Regions from separate parts of the Homo sapiens genome. Here region 2 is linked to region 1. The links come from fine-mapping of genetic effects on gene expression. A gene starts in region 1. The other region holds a variant in brackets. All regions are shown on one strand. Distances are between the middles of the regions. Region 1 holds the start of LINC00836 (long intergenic non-protein coding RNA 836). Region 2 overlaps GPR158 (G protein-coupled receptor 158).

What was found. PIP is the estimated chance that this variant, and not a neighbour inherited with it, causes the effect.
Region 2: its variant is the best candidate, but not a certain one, in a credible set for the expression of LINC00836 in cerebellar hemisphere (GTEx, PIP 0.53).

What each region holds. Positions count from the first base shown.
Region 1 is chr10:25,646,766-25,655,481 of GRCh38, forward strand. It overlaps LINC00836 (long intergenic non-protein coding RNA 836), which reads left to right and starts at 4,947. Exons shown (of 3, transcript NR_108068.1): 1 at 4,947-5,034. It also overlaps the pseudogene GPN3P1.
Region 2 is chr10:25,532,076-25,540,791 of GRCh38, forward strand. All of the region lies in intron 5 of GPR158 (G protein-coupled receptor 158), which reads left to right. Among named protein-coding and RNA genes, the nearest start is that of LINC00836, 120 kb to the right of the region's middle. The variant A/G (reference allele first, on the strand shown) is at 4,990.

The sequences.
Region 1 (8,716 bases):
CTCCACTGATGATTCTCTTAACCTTTCCAATTACAAAAACGATCCAATAAGTATCCTAGTTTAATTAGAAAATATGTGCTCAAATCCTTATATTTTTGGCAGATTGCATTCACCACTCAGAAATTAATGTCCAGGGAAAGTGTCTTTCCAATATTTCAGGTGTACTCTGGATCAGTAAAGATATTGATACTTTCTAGATATTGTAAAGCAGAAAATAGATATTAGCATAAAATGAGCAATGTAGAATGCCTTTTAAATTGAATAGGTACTTTTTTCTGTTAAATCAGGAAAGACCTTAAAATTATATTCCCTTTTAAATTTTTTAATTATATAAATAATACATTTTCAATGTAGGGAAATGGTAAGATATAGATGGGCAGTGGTCTTACCTATATCCTTCCAGATATTTCCCTCTGGATAGACATGTATATTTTGTTACAATAATTCCTGCACCTCAAAAACAATACAAACAGTAAAAATGAGATTGTATTAGCCTTATTAACTGTTGCAGAGGTGCTAATTTATATACAATTCTATGTGCATTCATTTCAATTTTGACTTTTAAATTTAAATTGATACGATCAAAATAATACTACAAGTTTCCACGTGAAGCAGCAGCAGTTTCAGAATAATTCAAAACTTGATTCAGGCATGCTGCTGATAAAAAAAAAAAAAAAACATGTACCTTTTTTTTCATTAGAATATGCAGCTTTCTACTACTGCATTCTTCGAAGAGAAGAATATTCTGCCGGTTTGGCCACAAGCTCTTCACGTATAGACAGTTACTCCTTAGTAAACTCTTCATTCATCCTGGTGTTCTTGAAAATATTCCTCAAACATAGAAGAAGATTCATTTTCATATTCCTTTGGTTATTTAAATGTTGAATCTTCTCCACATTGAATGGCTAAATCAATATGCTATAATACAATGTTCATACTTTCTTCATCTGACTGATCATAAGGTAAGAAGAGAACTATGCTGCAGTCATCAGCCCACATACAACTTTAGTTACTTTTTTGAATTCTTTGCTTCTTAAGCCACTTGTAGAATCATCAAATAAGGAATCCATGTCTAGATCTAGAAACTTACAGTTTCCTTTTTAGCTTTTTTACTCTGCAGCTACATTTTGATCACGATGTTAACTTGCGGAATTTATAGAGAGAGCATGGCACTCAGGACTGCCAAGATGCCAGAAATACACTTGAATGACTCCACCATGAACTGAGGATCAACAAGAAAAACTCCATAGACTCGGAAACTCCACTGCTCGAGCTGCAGGACCAGCTGCTTCATCACAGTCAGGTGAATGTACAACTCAGTCCAAGCTGGACAATCAAAGCTGGCAAGGGTATTACCAATTACTAATGGGATTGTAATTGTCCTAGTCCTTTTGAAAGCAATTAAACAATATGAATCAAAAGCAATACAAAGGTTCATACCTTTTACACACCTTTATGCTCTATTTATGAAATTATAGACTAACCAAATGTTCCAAAAATATGGAAAAATTATATGCATGAAGCAGCACCTCGGATCATTATTCATAACCGTAAAGTATTGGAAAAAACCTACAGCGCCAACAATAGAAAAGTGAAAAATGAAATTACAGAGCATCCACTCAAATATTGTCAAGCCTTTTTAAAATTATGGTTATAAAGACTGTGCAAAGGCATGAATAATGCTCATGACATATTAAATAGTGACTCAAGCTTTATAATTATTTGTCTAATGATTTCAATAAAATATAAAAAGAGAATACTCACTATTACTAAGACCGACTGTCTAAACTAGGTTGCAATTTTTAATCAAGAGAGTGGCAGACAGAGTATATGTGTGATATGGTTTGTATCTGTGTCCCCACCAAATCTTGTGTCCCTATAATCCCCAGTGTTGGAGGTGGGGCCTGGTGGAAGGTGACTGGATCATGGGGGTGGATCCTTCATATATGGTTTGGCACCATCCCTTGGGTGCTGTTCTCATGACAGAGTTCTCACAAGATCTGGTTGTTTAAAATTCTGTGTCACCTGCCTAGCCTGCCACTCCACCTCTTCTTGCTCCTGCTCTGGCCATGTAAGATGTGCCTGCTTCCCCTTCACCTTCTGCCATAATCGTAAGTTTCCTAAGGCCTCCCAAGAAGCAGATGCTGCCATACTTCCTGTATAACCTACAGAACTGTGAGTCAATTAAACATCTTTTCTTTATAAATTACTCAGTCTCAGGTATTTCTTTATGGCAGTGCAAGAACAGACGAATGCAATGTGCATAGACTTTTCCAAGACCTTGGAATGTATTATGTGAAGGCATATTATTAGTCAGCGAAGTAGAACCACTAGAAGTAATATAGATTAAAGGATTTGTTATAGGGGTTAGATTTTTACAAAACTATGTTGCTGGTGGAGAAGTCTGTGCAAGGCTGTTGTCTCTGTGTCTGATGTTGAACCTGAAGTCACTATAGAATAGCCAGCCAGCAATTGGTAGGAAAGCCTGAGTAGATGAGGGCAAGGACATACTAGAAGCTGAAAGGACAAGCGAGTGCTTGAGGACAAACTTGACCCAAGTCCCTTGGCTTGGGCTTTCTGTCACTTGCAATCTAAGGAGTTCTAACTGATAAAAGTAGATCAGTCTTGGCCTTGGAATAATAAGTCTGATTATGTTATAGAAACTTCACTATGACTCCACCTAGCATTAAAACCCATGGAGCTGAGTGACTGACAACCCCTTCCAGAGACCAAATGGGCAGAATCTGGGAAAAACTGGGAAGACCAAAGGAATTAAAGACTGCAGCATGGAGGAGAAAGCAAGAATAGGAACCTTGAAAAGTGGCAATTTAGTAACCTTGAGGCTCTAGATCGAAGACTCTTCATGGCCATCGAGAAACCTGGAATCTGCTGAATGGAGTGTAGAAGTCACTCTCTAATCTCCACCTTCTATGCGTTCTCTGTGGGTTAGCAAGTAGAATGGAAACTTAACCCTTGGTGAAAAGCTGCTTTGTGCATTCTTCTAGACTCTATCTGTGTTTTTGGCCCACGAGGATAGGCATGGTACTGGGGTAAAACATTGTGGTGACAACTAAGGCTAAGTGTTGACTGATACAGCCATTACCTACTGCAGTGTACATGCCTCCAATTTACATTTGTTTGAAAATTCCTATATAAAGAAACTAAGTAAACAAAGCACAGGTCTTGATAAATTCACAGTTGTGTGTCTATACTGCCTTCATATCCAGTTGAAAAATGGTCAACACATCATAAATGATTTCATGCTGGACACAGTAGCTCATGTCCATAATCCCAGCACTTAGGGAGGCTGAGGTGGGACGATTACTTGAAGCCAGGTGTTTAAGATCATCCTGGGCAATAGAGGCTGATCTCTGTCTGTACAAAAAATAAAAAATTAGCTGAGCATGGTGGTGCACACCTACAGTCCCAGCTCTTGGGAGGGTGAAGCAGGAGGATCTCTAGAACCCAGGAGTCGAAGGCTGCAGTGAGCTATGATTGTGCTACTACACTGCAGCCTGGGCAACAGAGCTAGGCTCTGTCTCTAAAAATAAAAAAATAAAATAAATTTAAAAAGAAAGGAAGAAGAAGAAAAAGAAAAAATGATGTAGCAGAATTTTCCCTGCCAAATCCACCAGTTAATAACCTATTGTTATATCTTGAAAGTTATGTTGGGATTATTTCCTTCTGAAATGGACTTCCTTCCATTCCACCTTCTATCCCTGTGTATTTTTGTTCACCAAGACTCTTATGAGAAAATTCTACTACAAATATGCCATTGTTGGGGAGAGAAAAGCTTTCACCTCAGACTCTCTAAAACACCGGCTTATGTCTGCCCACCCCTCTGAGAAGTAAACATGATTTGTAAATAAAAGCCACCCTGGGGCTCACATGAGATCAAAATTTATCTCCACAGTTTTCATGTTATGTTATTATCCTAATGTTGCCTTAAGACTCTCAAAAATAACACTTTAAAAGATCCACATTTCTCATATCTAAAGGAAGTTTGTTATTCCTTTGTTTGCACCCTACCTTGTTAGAAAAAGGATTGGAGGAAGCTTTCTGTGATACAAAAGATAGAAAGAAAGAAGGGAAGAAAGAAAGAAAGAAAGAAAGAAAGAAAGAAAGAAAGAAAGAAAGAAAGAAAGAAAGAAAGAAAGAGAAGGAAGGAAGGAAAGAAAGAGAAAGGGAAAGAGAGAGAGGGAGAGAGAGAGAAAGAAAAAGGAAGGAAGGGAGAGAGAGAAAGAAAGAAAAAAGGAAGGAGGGAAGGAAAGAAAGAAAGAAAGAAAGAAAGAAAGAAAGAAAGAAAGAAAGAAAGAAAGAGAGAGAGAAAGAAAGAAAGAAAAAGAAAGAAAGAAAGAAAAGAAAAGAAAGAAAAAGAAAGAAAGAAAGAGAAAAAGGATCAGATCAGGTCAGAGAAAAAACAATGGTTAAAAAAATAACTTGTCACTAGGGTAAGAATAACATGCATAATGCATTTTTTAATGTCCTGATAAACTGAGCTGTATATTTGTTTCATAACTCCCCAGCTTCCACAGCAAAAATAGAGAACTGATAATTATCACTATTTTTATTCTTTATGGTTGCTCAGGGGGAAAATTTTTAAAGGGGACATTACTGGAATAAGGTTACCCTTCTGTCACTCACATTTGATTACTCATAGACTTTTCTATTTGAAGACGCATTAAGGAAAATTTTCCTTGCAAACAAATGTTGTCAAATGAATTGACCAACATGCATACCTGCCAAGTGCCCAGCATCCTCAAGTACCTATAGGACATTAACTCCAGTAGCCTGTGTAGCAAAGTAGAATAAAAATAAAGTTACTGGGAATTCAGGATTGATAATATCTCTGATTTGTATATTTCTGCAGCAGTCAGTCTCTTTCAAAATATGGGAACAGCAAGTTAAAATAAACTGTCTTATTGGCAGAACAGAGTGTGATCATGAGATACTATTCAGCTTTTATGCTGATTCATCAGCTCACAGTGAAACGAGCTTGCATGAGAGCATCCCAGGACCACTGAACATTCAGAGGTATGTCCTCGCATCTTAATTTTTTTAAGGTAAAATGAGATTTTCATAGAATAAGGATACAGCTGATAAATAGCAAGTCTAAAATTACATATACACTAGCCTACATTTAAGAATATCTTGGCTAATTATTCCTAAGTCATTGATGTTTTTGTTTGTCTTTGTTTTTTACTATTTATTTCCTTTGCTTTACAGCTTTATTGAGTCATAATTGATGTAAATAAACCATCCATATTTAAAGTGTATTATTGATGAGTTTTTACATAATATACTTCCATGAAACCATCTTCAGTCAATGTAATGAAACTTTATATCACTCTCAGAACTTTCTCTTACCTCTTTCACACTCTAATTATTGTTTTTAACCTGCCTGTTCCTATTATATAGCAAATAATTTGCTTTTTAGAATCAAGATCATTATGATGCAATGAATATTTATCATTTGCTCTTTTGAACTGTGTTTGATGATTCTGTGACTTTTGTAGGTATCACAAAAGGGATTTACTTTCATGCAGAAAACTTAGGCTCAGCAAATGAATCCATATTTACGAATTTATGATGGGCTGAAATGGTAGGAAGAACTGGCCAGTCAATCTTGGACAAGAGTAGAACATTTAAAATGAAGTGGAGGTGATGGTAATGGGGGTGGGGTTGTACCACTTCAGTATAAGGAAACTGCAAAGAAAAAAAAACCCACCTGATTACTATGGCGGGGGTCGGTTCATCATTACATCATGAAAGGGGCAAATAGTTTAGAATATGCTAGGGGCTGGTGAAGAATTAAAGAAAAAAAGAGGGAAGAATGAAAGGGGGTAAGGGAAGAAGGGGAAAAGGGAAGGAACAAATAAGATATTAAGAGTAAAGGGAAAAAGACAAACAGAGAATACTGCAGTAGGGCTTTGAGCTAAAAGACATACAGTGACTTTTGTGATAAAGAAACCAAAGAAGGTCGTGAAATGGGTATCCAAAAAAAAAAAAAAAACGGGCAGCCTGTGGCGCTGCGGCTGGATAAAGAACATCAGGGACAGGAAGGCTGTAATAAGATTCCACCACCATCTCTGCCCATCACTAGGGCTGGAGGCAGAGAAAAACTTCCCCTACTCAAGAAAAAGAAGCTATTTTTGTCAAGTTAAATGAGCCTGAACCTGCAGAGCTGAATTGGCAGATGAATATTGCTAATTGGTGCAGTTTCTTCGGTGCAGGAAAGAGTTTCCAATCAGACCGGCAATTCATTGGCCACATGAAGGTAATTTATTAATAAAAATGAACTGAAGTTTCAGAATCCTTGATAATGATGAGCTCATGGTCCTTCACCTCCCTTCCCTTCCCTAGAAAGAACACCCTACAACAATGATGCCTCAGTGATATCTTCTCCAGCCCATTCCATATGTGGCAACATTTCAAGTGGTTTTTTTTTTTATTAGGAATTTCTACATTTAGTTGTCAAATCAAGCTGCTCTAAATGCCTAATTCTGATTCTCCCTTCATCAACAGACTTTTTGAGGAGTTCCTGATTCAAAGTAACCAGGAAAGTCTGCTAACTGCAGCTTAATTCTGAAAAGTGAAGGGGAAAACAAAACAGGAGAAACAGTCTCCCTTTAAAAAAAAATTAACTTTATTTTTCAGTTTAATAAATTTGACAAATGTATCCTCCTATGTAACCATAACCACATTAAGACATGGAGAATTGACCTCACCCCAAAGAATTCTGGTTTCCTTTGCAGTAACCACTCTCCCCAGCCCTGGTCATAGACAGCCATTGGTCTCCTTTCTGTCATTGTAGATTAGTATTGCCTTTTCTAGAATTCCATATAAATGAAGTTATCTGATGGCTTTTTAAAAAGTCAGTTGAACGTTTTTTGAGATTCAATCTGTGTTGCTGTACATCATTAGTCCATGCTTTTCATGGCTGAGTAGTATTCTATTATATAAACGTACTCCAATATGTGTATCCATGGGCATTTGGGTTGTTTCTGTTTTAGCCCATTAAAAATCAGATGGCTATGGGTATTAGTGTCCACGTATTTGTGTGGACATATGTTCTCATTTCTCTTGGGTAAATGCCTGGGGGTGGGATTGCTGTGTCATATAGTAAGTGTATTTTTAACTTTATAAGAAACCATCAGCTGTTTTCCAAACTGACTGTACCACTTTACATTTCCATCAGTAATGCCTGAGATTTCTAGTTGCTCCAAACCAGAGCCACTGAAATGGGTATAAAGTGGTATCTCATTGTTTTAATCACATTTTCCTAATGACTAGTAATGTTAAGTGTTTTTTCATGTGTTTATTGGCCATTCGTGAATTTCTTTTTGTGAAATGTTTGCAAAATCTTATGCCCATTTTTAAAAATAGGGCCATTTTGTAACTGTCCAATGGGTTCTCCTTGCCTGCTGCCCAAGTAAAGGTGATTTATCAAGGAGTTTATCCTTTGCATGCCCAGGTAAAGGAATTGCAGTAGAGAGGGCTTAATTCACTCAGAGCCACCTGAATGGGAGACTGGAGTTTTACTACTCAAATCAGTCTCCCTGAAAATTTTGAGACCGGGGTTTTTAAAGGATAATTTGGCAGACAGGAGGCCAGGGACTGGAGAGTGCTGATTGGTTAGGTCAGAGATGAAATCACAGGGGATCGAAGTGGGTTTTTCTTGTTGTCTTCTGTTCCTGGGTGGGATTGCAGAACTGGTAGAGCCAGATTACTGGTCTGGGTGCTAGCTGGTGGATCAGAATGCAGGGTCTGGAAAATATCTCGAGCACCAGTCTTAGGTTTTACAATAGTGATCTTATCCCTAGGAGCAATTGGGGAGGTTCAGCATCTTGTGGCCTCTGGCTGTATGACTCCAGAACATAATTTCTAATCTTGTGGCTAATATATTACTCCTATAAAGGCAGTCTGGTCCCCAGGCAAGATGGGAGTTGATTTTGGGAAAGGGCTGTTATCTTTGTTTCAAAGTTAAACTATAAACTAAGTTCCTTCCAAAGTTAGTTCAGCCTATGACCAGGAATGAACAAGGGCAGCTTGGAGTTTAGAAGCTAGATGGAATCAGGTTAGATTTCTCTCAGCGTCATAATTTTCTCACTGTTATAATTTTTACAAAGGTAGTTTCAATTGGTCTTATTATTGAGTTGTGAGAGTTCTTTATATATTATATATTATATATTATTTCTTTTTTTTTTTTTTTTGAGTCAGGGTCTTGCTCTCTCACCCAGGCTAGAGTACAGTGGTGCAATCATGGCTCACTGCAGCCTCAAACTCCGGAGCTCAAGGGTTCCTCCCACCTCAGCCTCCTGAAGTGTTAGAGTTACAGGCATGAACCATGGTGCTTGGACAATATATTCTTTGGTCTCTTTCATGTAACTGAATTTAAAATTTTGATGAAGTTCAGTTTCTCCATTTTTTGTAGTTTGTCCTTTGTGTGGCCTGAAAAGCTTTGCCTACCCCATAATTGTGAAGATCATTGTCTATAATTTCTTTTAGAAGTTTTATGGTTTCAGCTTTTAAACTTAGACCTATACTCCATTCTGAGTAAATTTTTGCATGTGACATGAGGAACTCATTGAGGTTCTTTTTATTTAATCAATGTCTATTCAATTATTTGGGCACTGTTTATTGGAAAGACCATCCTAACTGAATTACCTTGCTGCCTTTATAAACAATGAGTTGACCTGTGGTCTACAGGTCTATC
Region 2 (8,716 bases), 110 kb before region 1:
AATTATGACTTTAGATTTCTAGTGTAATTTGTGGTTTTTGGAACCTGTTGTACTATATGTTTTGCACATTTTCTTTAACCAAGTTGAGAAGGAGGACTACTGACATGAATCTTTGGACCCTAAAGAGAAAGAGGTGGGTTTCGTTGTTTGTTTTTCACCAGAGAATGGTCTATGCAAGACTATCTGTTAAACGGATGAGGCACCATACTAAGCTAAAGAGGTGGGCCACTCCCAGGGACAGGGTATGCCTAAGAGTGATGCATTTTTTATGTGTATTCTGTTCTTGGCTGTAAAAAAGCTTTTGCCTCTATCATTTAATTCTATATTGTGTCTCATCATCATTTTTTCATGTTTCTTCTCAAAATACCATACCTCAACTCTTTTCCTGTGAATTCTTCTGCATTTTTGTTTCTTTGTTGAGGTCTGGAGTTCTTAAGATTCTCTTGCTTCTCCTTGGGTCGTTTTCTGTATCTTTCCACCTCCACATAAAGTCACCATATAGATATTACATATGATACTTTCTCCACTTTGCTCTCTGATCCCCAGTGTGTAGAAAACACCCTCCATTCCCCATTTTAAGAGCCAGGCATTTATGCAATGACCTAACCAGAAATCCTTTTATGCATTGTTTCGTTCCTTTATTACAAAAGTGACACATTTGTTGTAAAAAAAAAAAAATACCAAAGCATATAACTTAAAGAGTAAAATCTCCTTTTGCCCCTTGCGTTCTCATTCCCAGCCAACCTATTCAGAGATAGTCTTCATGGTCTATTGAATGTGCATCTACATATTCCTTTTGATGTAGATACAAACAGAAGCATATGCTATTACTGTTCTGCAGCTTTCTTTTTATTTAACAATTTATCTTAAAGGTGTTTTCATAGCAACAGAATCAGATCCGCTTAATTCCCTTAATGCATGGTTTTCCACTGAATGGCTGTAACTTTAATTACCATAGTGAACCTGTCCCCTACTAGTGGAGAATGTTTTCAGTGTTTTTTGTCTTGCAAAAAATGCTTTAGTGAATATTCTTGCATATATATTTCTGCTATTTCTTATGGATGTTTATGTAGGGCAGTTTTCTAGAAATAGAATTCTCGCTGCACTGTAGTAGTTCTTAGACATTTTCCATCCCCAGCCTTAATCTGAGCTTTAGCTATCCCAATTCCACACGTGGCTTGCTTCTGGGCTGTGGACTAGTATTAGCAGCCCTTAGTCCTTGTCAAATTAAAACCACCTGTTAACCTTAAGAAAAAAATCATTCAGTCTCTGCCCTCAATTTACTGAATCAGTTTCTACAAGAAAAACCTGGACTTATATATATTTTAAACCATTATAGTTGGTTCTGGTGTTCAATCAGGGTGGAAGACCAATACACTGGTTCCTGGCTTCCACTCTTTCTCATGACTATGGCTGTATCTTCTCTCTCAGTAGTTTAATCTCTGTGATGTCCCTCTGCTTTCACAATTTTTCTACATGAATTATTCGGTTTAAAACATTCATTTTACCATTTGTTAACTTCATTCTTTATATATTTCATTTATTTTCCTTGGAAGTTATTTTTACCTTGTCGGCAGTGTTCAGTTCAACCCTGCCTTGTTCACTTCATTGAACAAATTGGTCAACATTTTATAGCACCAGGCATTCTAAAACATCCAGCCTCCATCAAAGATCACTAATTTTAATCTTTCTACTCTGTCCTTCCTTTGTAAAGGTAAGGTGTATTGCATAGCAATAATGAGCTCAGACTCCAGACCCCAGCTGAGTTTAAACCCAGCTCTGCCACTTACCAGCTATGTGACCTGGGGCAAATTCCTTAACTTTGCCTCAGCTTCCCCATATGTAAAGTGGGAGTAATAATAATGCCTACATCACAGTATTGTTGTAAGAAATAAACAAGTTATTTTATGTAGGGCACTTAAAAAGTAACTGGAATATAACATGAATTCATTAGATGTTGTTATTACCCCTCACCAAAAAGATAATGAGATAGACTCTGAGTTGCTTCCTTCTCTCCTGGGCCAGCTTTCAGCTTTCTTTGACATCTTCATCTGGTTATGCTTTGGCACATGCTTTTCTTCTCTATAATTATGTTGATATCTATCATCTGTTGTCATTCTTACTGAGATTCTTTTTTGGCCTTGAGTGTTTTTACAGTCATTTAGGGTTTCCAAAAGTAGCAGACATAAACATGTTCAATCTGCCAGGTTTTACCTGACATCTTCATTCTTCCTTAGTTACAATTTAAACATAGACATATGTACTTTTAAAGATCTGAATTAGGCCAGGCGCGGTATCTCATGCCTGTAATCCCAGCACTTTGGGAGGCTGAGGCAGGCAGATTACTTGAGGTCAGTTCGAGACCACCCTGGCTAACGTGATAAAACCCCGTCTGTACTAAAAATGCAAAAAACAAAACAAAACAAAACAAAACAAAAACAGATTACTTGAGATCAGGAGTTTGAGACCATCCTGGCTAACATGGTACAACCCCGTCTCTACTAAAAATGCAAAAAAAAAAAAAAAAAATTAGCTGGGTGTGGTGGCACGTATCTGTAATCTCAACTATTTGGGAAGCTAACACAGGAGAATCGCTTGAACCCAAGAGGTGGAGGTTGCAGCGAGCCAACATTGTGCCACTGCACTTCAGCCTGCGTGACAGAGCAAGAAGTGACAGAGCAAGACTCCATCTCAAAAAGTTAGATAGACAGATAGACAGACAGACAGGGATCCGAATTACATCTCCCACCTCAACATGACCATACCATTTTTCTTACTGTTTAAAACATTACAATAAAAAAGTCACTTCTCAGCAGTTCTTAGTCATGAGCTATGTGTAGTCATTTCTCAGCAGTTCTTAGTCAAGAATCATGATCCTGAAGATGGGTTAGACTCTGTTGGAGAAGGCAGCCTTACTGGATTTCTTTTCTTGCTTTCAAAAATTTCTCCTTTAAAGTAGTTTTTCACATTATTCTTTCTCTAAATGCATACTCTGGGGATCTCATAGCTTTGTAGTCTATATTCCTCTTACATCATTTGCTTTGAACCCAGGTAGATAACAGCATTTCTGATGATATAAAAGTAGTCTCTTTTTGTGGTAAATAACTAATAGCTCCAATGTTCCCTACCTCCTGGTAATCATGGCCTATGTAATTCTCACCCCTTGACTAATTAGTTTCTAATCAATCAAACAGATTAACATTGAAAGAATGTGACTTCCACAATGAGGTTAAAAAAATTACAACTTTCATCTTGCTAGAAGACTCTCTCTTGCTGGCTTTGATGAAGCATGCGCCATATTGGAGTGGCCCACATGGCAAGGAACTGAGAATGGCCTCCAACCCACAGCCAGCAAGGACAAAGGGCCTCAGTTCCTCTAGCCCTCAGGGAGGCAAATGCTGACAACAGCAGCATGGGCTTGGAAGTGTATCCTTCTCCAGTTTAGCCTTCAGATGGAACCCCAGACCTGAGTAATGGCTTGATTACAGATGTGTGAGTAACCCTAAGGCTGGCAGTGCCTGGATGAATGACCCACTGAAACTGTGAGATAAGAAATGAGTATTGTTTTAAGCCAGCCACTAAGTTTGTGGTATTTGTTATATACAAGTAGATAATGAATGCACCTTGATTGTCCTGGTTTTATCCATCATATTAATAGTTCTGACTCTGCTTCGACAAAGCTCAGTTTGCCTAGTCTGCTTCTTTCCTCTTCTCTCTATACCCCATTCTCAACTCCACACTATTCAGAAGCTTCTTTTCTGTCCTTATTTGAAGATACATTTAGAATAAGACTAAATAGATTGTTGATTCAAATGTGACAAATATCAAAAGTAATCCTCATATGTTAGTAATAAAACTGGCATTTCTCCATTGTTTTGTACTGTTTTAAGTGCATCCACACTGTGTCCCCACTAAACTGTTGAGGAAAGTGAGGCCCAGAGAAATTAAGGAATTTGTCCCAGGTTATATTTCTCATTGGTGGTAAAGCCTAGCCTGGCATTTAGGGCAATTAACACCAAATTCCTTGTTTTACCCACTGCATTAGGCTGCAGCTCCTTTCCACCTGACTAGTAGGTAGCTCATATATTTGTATTATTTTACAAATAAAAGTCTTCAATTTTTATTGAAGAATATTTAATTCTTTAATATTAAAGATATTAATTTCTTTATTAAAGAAAATTCATTTGTAAAATAATGCAAATATATTTTACATTATTTGTTATATTAAATCTCCAGCCTCCTTTACATATAGTGGTTTTACTGAAGCTAATTAAGTATTTCCAAGTGTGTGTATTTTATTTTGCTCTAAACCAGGCATATTATTTGGCCAGTAATGAAAACAAATCTTTCTGAGATGTGTGCTACAAGTATTTTGTATTCTGAATGAAGAAGTGTAAAGTCTCCAGTTTCTAATGGCCTTCGTTAACATCCCATTTACCAACTCTTGTACTGTTTTTGTCCTTTATAAAAGAAAATTCCTGAATCAGTAAATCATTGATCATATTCAGAGTTCATTTGTTTCTGCATTTGTCCATTTCTTGAGAAATATATTTTTAACCTCTCTGCCAAATATCTTAGCTGATAAACTGCATCTTTTTTTTAGTCATATTTTAGGAGATGATTCAAAAGATTTAACTTTATCTTTCCATTATATGCACAGATTAAACTGAAAGATTCAGTTATCTTGGGCTGGCAGGCTTCACTTTCTGGGTTTTGCCCAGTTCAGCCAACCCATGCTACTCTAACTGTGGTCCTAGGAGCAGCAGGATTAGCATCCCGAGGGGCTTGTCAGAAATGCATCATCTTGGGCCTCACCACAAACCTACTGAAGCACACTTTGCATTTTGGCAAGCTCTCCAGATGATCGTATGCACGTGAAGATGTGAGAAACACTGTTCTAAGCCCCTTTTATGGCAGAGTCCTAAGTGGTCCAGCTCACCCAGTGGCACCACTTCCAGGCTAAACTCCACCTGTGTCTCAAGTCACTTT[A/G]TTGTCATCTGCCAGAAAATGATTGTAATCAATCTAAAGTAGACAATGCATTCAAGATGTTCTTGCTAGTTGTGTAATGCACAGACTGCATACTCATGCAGAGGCCCTCCCTTACTGTATAGTCTTTCCAACCAAAACAAAGTAATTCCCAGGAATTATTCTATTGAACTATCCATTTTTCCATTATTTCTGAGGACTCTTAATTCATTTAGCTCTTTCAGCCTTAATATAGTAATATGATACCTAATAAGATTATCTTATTTCTAAAGCATAAGACCATATACTTCTTTGACTGTATCATGACATAAATATGTTATTTACCATTTACTAAGCACCTGTAACAGATATTGGAGTAGTTTCTTATTTTAAATTAACTTTTTTCTGATTACAGAACATGTGTAAGATACTGAGACTTGAAAGCATGTCTAATACTAAAACCAGAGAATCTCTGTCAACATTGTTTACTTTGTGTGTTATGTATATACACACATACAATTTTATATATATTTATATTATTGAAAATTAACCTTTTCTCAATACACATTTACAGTAAGGATTTGAACTGGAGCTTAACTGCCTGATATGGCCTGGATTTGTGTCCCCGCCCAAATCTCATGTGGAATTGTAATCCCCAGTGTTGGAGGAGGGGCCTGGTGGGAGGTGACTGGATATGGGGGTGGATTTCCCCCTTGCCATTCTCATGATAGTGAGTTCTCATAAGATCAGGTTGTTTAAAAGTGTGTAGCACCTCCTCTTTCACTCCCTTCCTCCTCTGCCATGTAAGATGTGCCTGCTTCCCCTTCACCTTCTATGGTGATTGTAAGTTTCCTGAAGCCTCCCCAGCCATGCTTCCTGTAGAGCCTGCGGAACTGTGAGCCAATTAAACCTCTCTTCTTTTTAAATTACCCAATTTCAGGTATTTCTTTATAGTGGTGCAAGAACAGACTAATACACTGTCCATTTTAGAAAAGATCAATCTTTTCAAAACAATACAAAATGAAAAAAATTTTTACCATAATACTTTGATCACAGTACTCAACATTCTGCTCACTAGTGTGTGTTTTTCTCTCAGAGGCACATGCAGTTTGCTCATAAGGATATCAGGAGAGAAAACAAGAAGCCAAATCAGAGCCAAAGCTTCAGATTTGCCGTTGTTGTTGTTGTTGTTGTTTTGCTTTTTTGGCAATTATAGAGAACAGATATTTTAGATGAATATCTTTTTTTTAAATTATACTTTAAGTTCTAGGGAACAGACATTCCAGGATATTTTCCCCATTAGCTTTTATGCATAGCTCCTTATGCCTTGTTTTATAGAATAAATTAAGGATGTTCAATTCAGGGTAATAAACAGGGGACAAGTGTGCTTTCATTTCTCTGTGTATGTTTCTATGTATGTACATATATATACACACAAATGTTTTGTTGTTGTTGTTAAGAGATGGGTTTTCACTATACTGCCCAGACTGGAGTGCGATGGTTATTCATAGGTGTGATTATCACACATTATAGCCTCGAACTCCTGGCCGTAAGTGATCCTTCTGCCTCATGTGATCTTCCTGCCCAGCTTCCCAAGCAGCTGGGACTGCAGGCATGTGTCACGGTGCCTGGCTACACATAAATGTTGAGCATAACTGCTATCACACTGTATATTTTATATACATTTTAGGTGCTGCTTATTTTTTCACTAAACATAAATCCTGAGAGCTTTCCCATATTTTTTATTTTTGAGGACATGATTATTAAGGATGGTATAAACTTCTGTCTTAAGTCACGCATCGTAATTTATTCTTGGCCAAAACGGTATCTATTTTGAACACATACACGGAGAAGTTGTGAAAGTTTAGAGCAAAAATAGTCATATGTTTCTTTGTTTATTATGTGTATTAGAATGGGCTGTTTCCATGAAGCGCCTCTTCTCATAGAGAGATGGGAAAACCGAGACCAGGGAGGGCACCTGGACTTTCCATTGTGTGCCCTCCCAGCACGCTGGTTTTCTGCATCTTGCTGTGCTTTTCCTTGAGCCGCTAAATGTCACATTTATGAATGTAGTGCTGCATCCTGGGTGTTCTAACCTATGCATGGATGGAGATGAGAGGTGCTGCTAGGGGAGGAGCAGTATTGGACTGGGAGGCTCCAAGACTGGCTTATGTGTAATAAAGCTGCTGCCTAGTTGGGGCATGACCAAGGATTTTTTAAATTTGATCTTCTGTTTAGCAAAAAGCTATGGGTCTCAGAGTTAGAAGACCCCAATGAGGAGGAGTATGAATGAAAATCTTTCCTTGTTATGTGTGGGGGGTTTAGATCTTATTCTGGTTCAGAGAATGAGGCCTGTGGTGTTTTATTTAAAAGGTACTTCTTTATTGGATAAGATCTACCAAGCTGTGAGTAGAATCACCACTAAGACTTTGGGAACTTGTCCTCTTTGCCCTTGGTTTTTAGACCTGTAACCCCTTTTAATTTTTTTTTTTTTTTGGACATTTTCAGGTGTATTCTATGGGAATTTTGGAGAGGATGTATTGGGGTACAGCATAGCATCTGCTGCCACATTAACCCCCAAATCTTGTATATTTTATAATTTTTAAAATGTTACTTCTGTATTACTATGGAAGCTATTCAATTTTTGTTGTTTTGGGGTAATAGGAGCCAAATATTAAGTTCTAGACCATGGTTGTATAAAGACACATAATCACAATTATAGCCATTCTCATGTATGTGGTAATTGTATAAATGTAAAGCTGCATTAGGTACTTTTGTTATTTTGAATCCAAAATTACTATGGAATCAAAAATGAACCTATAGTAAGATTTGAAGGACATGCATTTTTATCACTAAATAAGTCCCACGTATGGAAGCACATCTCTTGCCAAATATAGAAAAATATAAGAATTTTAGTTTAATTAGATCCTCTGCACAGCAAAAGAAACTACCATCAGAGTGAACAGGCAACCTACAGAATGGGAGAAAATTTTCGCAACCTACTCATCTGACAAAGGGCTAATATCCAGAATCTACAAAGAACTCAAACAAATTTACAAGAAAGAAACAACCCCATCAATAAGTGGGCGAAGGATATGAACAGACACTTCTCAAAAGAAGACATTTATGCAGCCAAAAGACACATGAAAAAATGCTCATCATCACTGGCCATCAGAGAAATGCAAATCAAAACCACAATGAGATACCATCTCATACCAGTTAGAATGGTGATCATTAAAAAGTCAGGAAACAACAGGTGCTGGAGAGGACATGGAGAAATAGGAACACTTTTACACTGTTGGTGGGACTATAAACTAGTTCAACCATTGTGGAAGACAGTGTGGTGATTCCTCAGGGATCTAAACTAGAAATACCATTTGACCCAGCCATCCCATTACTGGGTATACACCCAAAGGATTATAAATCACGCTGCTGTAAAGACACATGCATACGTATGTTTATTGTGGCACTATTCACAATAGCAAAGACTTGGAACCAACCCAAATGTCCAACAATGATAGACTGGATTAAGAAAATGTGGCACATATACACCATGGAATACTATGCAGCCATAAAAAAGGATGAGTTCATGTCCTTTGTAGGGACATGGATGAAGCTGGAAACCATCATTCTCAGCAAACTATCACAAGGACAAAAAACCAAACACCACATGTTCTCACTCATAGGTGGGAATTGAACAATGAGAACACTTGGACACAGGAAGGGGAACATCACACACCGGGGCCTGTCG